2 linked regions of the Homo sapiens genome follow. The protein of the gene in region 1 interacts with the protein of each later gene in a pairwise test. Each region holds a gene or a part of one and is shown on either strand. Other genes may lie near its edges. The genes, in order: GP2 and GLP1R.

Region 1 (4,594 bases):
TCTTAGGCAAGTTTAAAATATATTGCTTTCTTAAAAATAAAAATAAGTTTAATTCTGTGCAACATCTTTTTTTCCACTTGCATTTTTTACTTAATATAACATAGACATTTTTCCATACCAGTAGCACAGTCTATTGCAAGAACTCCCAACCTTGGCACTATTGACATTTTGGCTAGGTCATTCTTCACTGGAGGAGCCATCCTGTGCATTATAGAATGTTTAGGAGTATCCTTGACCTCTACCTACCAGATCCCACCAGCATGCCCCAAAGTGGTCTCCAGGCATTGCCAAATGTCTTCTTGGGGGGCATCGCCCCCAGTTGAGAACCACTGATCTAACAAGACCATTTCTGATTGTTGATCTACCATTTTTAAAAACAGTTTTAGAAACTGTGATGTATGAAGAGGCAGAGAAGTGAAGGAGGAAGACCACAGGCTGGTCAGGCTGAGTTTAAATCCAATTCTACACCTGCTGGCTGGGTGACCTTGGCAGGTGACTTAAGTCCCCTGAGACTCATTGGCAAAACCACACCTGTGAACCAGTGGTTCTCAAACTTTATCCGTTCCTACGCTTTGGGTCATGACCTTTGTCATACATGTGTTTGCCTGTCCTATTATTGACTTAAAATGTTTCTTTCAATGATTATCTTTTAAGAATTAGTTTCATCTTAAAGAATAATATCTGTGATAACATAGATATCATGTGCTAGTTATATTTTTTAGATGTGCATAAAAAATAAACATACAGCCATTAAAAACTTGTTAAGAGTTTGCCAGGCACCCCCAGAACCATCTTGGAATATATACACCTCATTTGGGGAAAGAAAGCCTTAAACGATTGTTAGAGGATTAAATGTGATAATATGTGTAAAATGCCAAGCACAGCACCAGGGTCAAGCTAATTGTCTTCTCTAGTTCTATTTTGTTGAATGCTGTAGATGCCTGAAGAAGGAGCTAAGTGCACACACAGGATCATGTGCTTACAATACACATTAAAGGGGCTTTCTAAAAAAAAGAGATTTTCAAGCTTTGCACATGCTTATAATACACATTAGAAGGGCCTTTCAGAAAAAAAGATTTTCAAACTTTGCTCATGCATGTACTTATTTTAAGACAAGGAATCACTGCATTTGTTATTCTTAGATTGTATTTTTCCACTGGAGGCCTCCAATGAGCTCAGTACCCTCTCCCACCCTCCTCCAGGGGCTGAAATTTGCACTCTAATTCTAAGCCTGAGACTCCTTTCTGCAAGTATCTGAATTGCCCACTTCATAAAGAGATCACTTAATCTAGCCCTTTCAGGAAAAGGAGAAGGCACTTGCCAGCACAAGGTGACTGAGTTATGTATTTCTTGATCTTCTTTAATCTGGGGTCTCTAATCTCCCAAAGATATGGGCATGGGAAATTATGTTAACTGGCTCCCACTGCCCTTTCAGAGGAATTTCTGATTAGGCTCTTTGAGAGATTGTGACTTGATTTCCATTGTTTCTCATTATGTTTCCCTTGACTTCTAGCTCTGAGTTTTTGCTTTAGAACTGCCAATTCCTCTTCCTTACCTGAGCCACCTTCTCTGCACTTCTATCCTCACTTGCTAGGTCTTCCTTGACATCTGAGATGCCAGGTGAGCAGAATACTTACCTCGCTGCACTGCAGATGCCTGGGTCAGAATGCAGGAGACCAAGGCCAGCCACAGGAGGCCAGAGCCCACCATCCTTTCCATAAGGTGAGGCATGCAGGTCACTTTGCTGTATGCAGACTTCCCATGCAGCTATGGGAAAGAAAAGACCAAGATAAGATTAGGGCATAGGTCTATGTTCTTAGAAACAGATCCGTTGACTTCCTTCATAAAGAGCTGCATTGTTTCAAAGTAGGTGTGACTTATGGACAGATAGAGCGAGATAATGGGTGATAAAATTGACAGTAAGCAAACCAAAGGCAAGCTTAGAGCTGGCTAGTACTGCAGAATGTCCTAGAAAGGTCTCAGGATGGTCCCTGCTCAGGTGGAAGTAGAGGCTCTTTGGAGATTGGATAGAGAAAAAGGGATATGGTACCTGTGAATACCTGCACACAAAAGTAATGGCTGCCCTTTCTTAGTTTTATGCATTGGGTGCTGCTAAGAGCCCCCTGAAATGTCCTCTATGGATGTAGATTTCTGTGACTGTGGAACCATGCCAAACCGAGCCTCATGTTCCTTGCTCCTAGTACAGAATCTGGCACACAAGGAGTACTCAGTAGAGGATTAAGGATGAATAAATAAATCAATGGGGGTTGGGGGCGGTGGCGAGGCAGAAAGAAAGAGCTGCAAAAAAGCCTGCCAGCATTTGGATGGCATTTACTTTTCTGGGAAATACTTTCCCTAAATGGCCAAATCTTTGGATAACTTCCTACAACCTCTGGAAGACTTCAGTGGAAAATAGAGATCGGTTTCGGGCAGGGATACCATGAGTATGCTATGAGACAGCAGGGATAGGGAAGCACCCAGGATTGGTGATTCTTAGAGATGAGATCCCAATAGAGACCTAGTTCCCTGGTGGGAATATCTGGGACAAGGAAGAGGGTGGCGTCCGTAGGCCTGGAGCATCGCAGATGACTGGAAGCATGACTGAGTTGGACATAGAGTGGTACCTGGAGCACTTGACAATGGCCAGGGTCCAAACTACTTGCTGGGTTCTAAAAATTTCCAGAAACAAAGAATCCTAGCATGTCCAGTGGATCAAGATTTCCCAGGATTAGGAGGAAGCCTCCTGGGGCTTAAAGCAGGACTTACCTCCGATGAGAACACAAAGCGTTCCTCCTCTGGCCAGCCATGGGAATGCAGCCTGCTGTGGGCCGTCTTTTTATTGCAATTTCCCACCCATGTGTCTCTCCTCAATTGGTGCACAGGTATGATGGGAGTTCTAGGCCATACACTGGGCTTGTTGAGTGGAGGTGAGATAAGCCATTTACGCAAAGGATGGTGAAAGAAGGGCCCTCCCCTCACAATGTCAACCCTTCCAGCTGTCTCAGCATTGTGCGAATGCTTCCTACAAACAATAGTGCTGTGTGCTGAATGCTGAACATGCTGGGCACTGCTTTGCGTTCTTGACTTCTCACATTTAATCTTCATAATTAATCAATGAAACTGGTGCCATATTTATTACCAGAAACCAAACACGAATTGAAAGGAAGCTTAATACCCAAAGGGAAGTGAAGAGAAAATCAAACAGGCACTTGTTTGCACAATGGATTTTCAGTTGTACCTTGTGTTCCTAGCTAATCATCTTGGAACATTTCTGCTTCTGTCTGAAGGCCACTGAGCTTGGGGCCAGTTAGACTAAGAGGACACATAGGAAAGGAAAGAAGGGAGTGTGGATGTTTCGAAAAATTCCATTTATTGGTCCATAGAATCTACCCAACTCCGGATTTCTAATGCTGAGCAGTTTTGGAATGGCTAATTTGGTGATGATGGATTTTGGAATGGCAAAGGACAGACAAAGGTTCTTGGACAAAAGAAGCACCAGAGTAGCCCCTGTAAATCCCTTTTGATATGTAGGCTGCCCTAGAGATTGGAAGGCATGAGACTGAGAAGAGGCTGTAGAGGATCTTGGACTTATTAACTCCAGGCTTGGACCTGGCTTTCATGACATGGTAGAAATCATGGACTTCATAAAAGAGCCAAAGCTTTTGCAGAAAAAATGGCCACTGCTTCTTCTCTGTCACTCTGGGACTCCTTAAGGAGCCAAGGCAACTGGAGTCAAGGGAGCAGGAGGGTCTTGGCATTGGTAACACCTTCTACAAAACCTCAACCTGGAAAAAGAAAAGGTGCTACAAGCCACCTTCTCTACTCCCAGAGCAACTGGAGAATAAATAGTCTCTAAAATGTGGAACTTGTGACAACTGGGCCCACTAAATCACCTACTGATCCATTCAGTCTGGCCAGGTGCCCATCCCAGTCTCCCCAGTGGCCACTCTTAACCTTCCCATTCCTCTTAAATGGTCTCTGCAGCTATTATCACCCACTCACACCACCTTTCTCAGCAGATATCTGGTACCCTACTTCAAAAACAATTTAGGCCACAACACCTGACCTTGCTCCTTCCCCTGTAAACATATAAATACTGGTCTCCATCCTCCACCCCTTCCCCCTCCAACTTCTGATAAGGCGATGTTCCTCCTTTTCAAAGTCAGTTCCTCCATCCCTCTTCTGGCTTCTCCATTCCAATCTGAACCATGTAGCTACAACTTTATAGCCAAATCCACTGGGTAGTTTGTTTCTGCTCCTTTGTGATTGGATTTGCCTACTGCTTGTTCCGGGTACCTTGCATTTCCTTGACTCCGCATGTTCATATTTTCTTGATTCTCCTGTTTCTACCTGGAGATTTCTGCTCTGTTGCTACAAGATCCTGTCTCTAAGAATGCTGGTTAGGTCCCATTTTTCTTTTCACGTCATAAACTCTCCCTGGGAGGTATCAAGTTATCTCATGGTTTCACATACCATCTCCAGGCTGGTGAGTTCTGAATCCGTATCCCCAGCTTTCGCTACTCCCTTGAACTTCAGTTCCATCTACCTATTGATTGCTGGACCTCTCACTGCCGCTGAGATGCTTGAGACACCT
Region 2 (3,811 bases), on another chromosome or scaffold:
GTTGCTGCTTGGGCTCCAGCCCCTTCAAGGTGTGATGATAGGAGCACGAATTGGATTCAAATCCTGGCTCTGCCATTGACCACATCATTTGGAACAAGTGACTTAAACTTTTTGTGCTTCAGTTTCCTCATCTGTACAGCAGGTATAACCACAGGGTAGTTATAAAGCCCTGCTTTTAGGGCAGGACTTGGCACACAGTAGGTACTCAATAAATGCTGGCTATGATGACGATGATGATGGTGATGGTGATGATGATGATGATGATGATGATGATAGGGAAATATCTTTTCTCCCCTTATGGAGACTGGGAGCTCCTTGCCATGAGGGTGCTTGTCTCCTGTTATCCTCCACGGTGCCTGGGTGAAACTGGGCTCAGCAAGGGAGGCTGGGATAGATAGCGGGGCACATTAACTAACCCTCCAGTCAGGGATCCTCTTGCAGCCTCTGCAAATCTCTGTACCCCCAATGAAATGACCTTCCCACCTACCCAGTCACATCTTCCCCAGTACAAGGTCCCCCTTGCAGGCAGGAGTGAGCTGAGGAGGGCTGAGTCTGGTGGGGTTCGTCACCCCACCAATGCCCTGATCACTTCTCCCAGTGAACCTCTAAAGAGTGAGGAAGTAGCTAAATGTCACTGCCAGGTATGGGCCACCTGCATACACATATCATACATACATGTATACACACAGCAGACACCCTGGGTAGCTTCCCTCCCCGCAAGAGTCTGTCCCCACCCAGCTCTTTTCCTGACTACTGAATTGGAAGGGGTCGCATTTCTCTTCAGACACTTACTTTCCCTTCCCCACACACTGGCCAGCACTGGCCTCACGCCCAGACCCAGGTGGTACCTCAGGCCATCATGAAACTTATCACTACTGACTGCTCCCCTCACCCCAGGAAAGGCAGGCGGACCACTCACTAGGAGGCCTAAAGACATTCTGGGTGGGGAGGGCTGTGTCTCAGAGGAAAGGAAGCAGCGCCTTGACCTCAGCCTCCTCGATACAGGGGACGGTGGGGGAGGGAGCTCACCACTGCTGACCCAGGGCAGGTACCAGGTCAGGGAGGGGGCTCACCACTGCTGACCCACGGCAGGTACCAGGTTAGGGAGGGGGCTCACCACTGCTGACCCACGGCAGGTACCAGGTTAGGGAGGGGGCTCACCACTGCTGGCCCAGGGCAGGTACCAGGTCAGGGAGGGGGCTCACCACTGCTGGCCCAGGGCAGGTATCAGGTCGGGGAGGGGGCTCACCACTGCTGGCCCAGGGCAGATACCAGGTCGGGGAGGGGGTTCACCACTGCTGGCCCAGGGCAGGTACCAGGTCGGGGAGGGGGCTCACCACTGCTGGCCCAGGGCAGGTACCAGGGGCAGCTGACATTCACGAACGAGCCTGGCTCCCCATCTGGCCAGCAGGCGTATTCATCGAAGGTCCGGTTGCAGAACAAGTCTGGGAGCAGAAAGAACAGTCTCTGAGTCCCTGCTTGTGACTGGCCATGGCCCTTTCCCTCCCTTCCCCAAGACCCCTCCCCTCCTCGGAGGCTGCATGCCACTAACCTCTGCTGAATGCTTACTGTATGCCAAGCACTTTCCCCACCCAGCAAGAGCCAAGCAGGGGCACTTGCCACTTATCAGTGGCAGGACCTTGAGCAAGTAACTTAATGTCTGTTTCCTGATCTGTAAAACAGGAGTATTTCCAGCCCCATAGGGTTTTGTGGGATCAAGACTATATGCTACATAGATAATGGAACATAGTACGTGCTCAATGAAAAATCCCTATGGGCCTATTCTTAAATTGCACTTCACAGATTAGAGGGAAATGTTAGCTTACCTTCCTTCTGATCTCACTTAAGATAACCTTCTTTAGGTCACGTGTTATAATTACAGTCAGGATTTCAACCTAGGCCCAGCGGGCTCCAATCCCGTGCTCTTTAAACCACCTTGTGAACTCCCTGAAACATTTATTCCTATAAATATGTTTGTGGAGCCCTCAGTCCATGCACAGGCTGGGAGGTGCTGAGGACAAAAATGGAAAGGCCGGGTGCCTGCTCTGAGAGGCTCTAGCTGGGGGGCTGGCCGGCGGTGCAGGGAAGGACACACAGATAAGACAGCTAAGACAGAAATAAGACAGCAACCCCAAAGCAGACTACAGCAAACGAGTAAGGGCCAAATGATGGCAGAAGTCCTGGGGAAGATTTTCTGGAGGAGGCAGTGCTTCCGCGGACTTTGAAGAAAAGGAAGATTTTGGTCGGCAGAAAGGAAGGTATCCAGGTGAAGGAGTAGCTTGGACAATGAGATGAAGGCAGAGGGCAGGGGTGGCATCCTATAGAGGCAAATGGCTCCCAGCCATGGACATTGAGTTCATCAAAGTCCTCCAGAAGTTGGTTGGGTGGGGAGCACTAAAGGTGGGGAGCCTACATGGACTCACCTGTGGCAGGAGGTGGATCCTCAGTCAGGGAGCGCTGGCACTGGCGTCGGTATTCTCGCCATTTCTGCACCGTCTCCCAGAGGGACACAGTGGCACCCTGGGGGGAGGGCATATATGGGAGGCCTGTGGGTTCAGCCAGCCCCTCTCCTGCCCCCTCACCCCCTAACACACTTGGTTTCTCAATCTCCATGAAACCTCAAAGCCCCAAATTCTGCCAGGCATCAGCCACCTCTGAAAGAGAGTGAGAATAAGTCACTGCCACCCAGGGGCCCCAGGTGGATGGTTTGACATCTTCATTCCTCCCAGGGTGCATAGCTTGATGTGTCACGAGCACCCAGCAAATGTCTGCTAAATTGATGCTTTTGGGGAGGTGGGTGGGTGAAGGAGGAAAGGAGCGTGTGTGTCTCATTTGTGATCTCTGATCTCACTTAGGAGAGAGACTTTCTGAGGGCCCAGGACTCTAAGCTCCTTCTGGCGCCTAGTCAGCCTGCCTGAGGGCTTCTTGCACTTTCAACCATTCTAGAAGAAGACACACAGGCCAGAGTGGGAGAGGAACTGAATCAAGGGTGCACAGCCCCCCCAGGAAGCAGAGTTAAGGCTAGAATCTGGAGTCCTTCAGATCAGTGACCATGGTAGAATATCGCAAGGTGTGCGGGGGCCGGGGAGAGTAGTGGCGTTCAGGGCTACAAAGAGCTGGGATGTCTGCCATTAGCATTCCTCCTCCAAAACGCACTCACTTACAGATGCACTCAACACAGCACCCCCCACCCCCTCCCCGTGCTCCCCTCTGACACAGCAACCAAATCTAATATTCAACCCAGCTTCTATCCACCCAAAGGAAGAGTCCTGAGGACATGAGGTGAAGGGGTCAGGGAGGTTCCAGAACACTGAAGTCACACGTGCAATGGGAGGGATCCCTCTCACCTGTGAGTAGGGAGAGCTGAGCCTCCACTTCCAGTGAGGTCACCGAAATGGCTTTTCAGCACACAGACCCAAACAGACCCATCCCACTGAGAATCCACCATTCCTTCTGAGTGTTTTTGTGCACTTCCTTCAGCTATGTCTTGGGGTTGTCGTTCTTTTTAGTTTTTTCCTGAACAGCCTTAAAAATTATAAATATTCGTCCTTCAGAGGCTGCAGATGCTGAAATGACCCAAGAGCCCCATGTATAAAATGTAGGACCCATACATAATTTAAAACAACATTTTGCTTTTTGAAATCACAAAAATGTCCACGTGTGCTGAAATTAAAATAGCTTCTTTTTAGAAGCTTGCCCCCTTGCCTTGTAGCGTGCTGGGCACATGCTGGATCCAGTCTCGGGTTCTAGCTGGCTTATCACACACCTCCCTGAGAGACTTGGGTTGCCTTGCTCACCCCTTGCTGCCTCG

Evidence for each region.
Region 2: the proteins of GP2 (region 1) and GLP1R interact in a protein complementation assay, tested with the Homo sapiens proteins (one study listed by BioGRID).

What each region holds. Positions count from the first base shown.
Region 1 is NC_000016.10:20,324,701-20,329,294, forward strand, and holds the start of GP2 (pancreatic secretory granule membrane major glycoprotein GP2 isoform 2 precursor), read right to left. Parts: upstream 2,814-4,594; 5' UTR 2,767-2,813; intron 1,768-2,766; 5' UTR 1,732-1,767; coding exon 1,638-1,731; intron 1-1,637. UniProt on the Homo sapiens protein: Functions as an intestinal M-cell transcytotic receptor specific for type-I-piliated bacteria that participates in the mucosal immune response toward these bacteria. At the apical membrane of M-cells it binds fimH, a protein of the bacteria type I pilus tip.
Region 2 is NC_000006.12:39,055,106-39,058,916, reverse strand, and holds part of GLP1R (glucagon-like peptide 1 receptor precursor), read right to left. Parts: intron 2,521-3,811; coding exon 2,424-2,520; intron 1,446-2,423; coding exon 1,338-1,445; intron 1-1,337.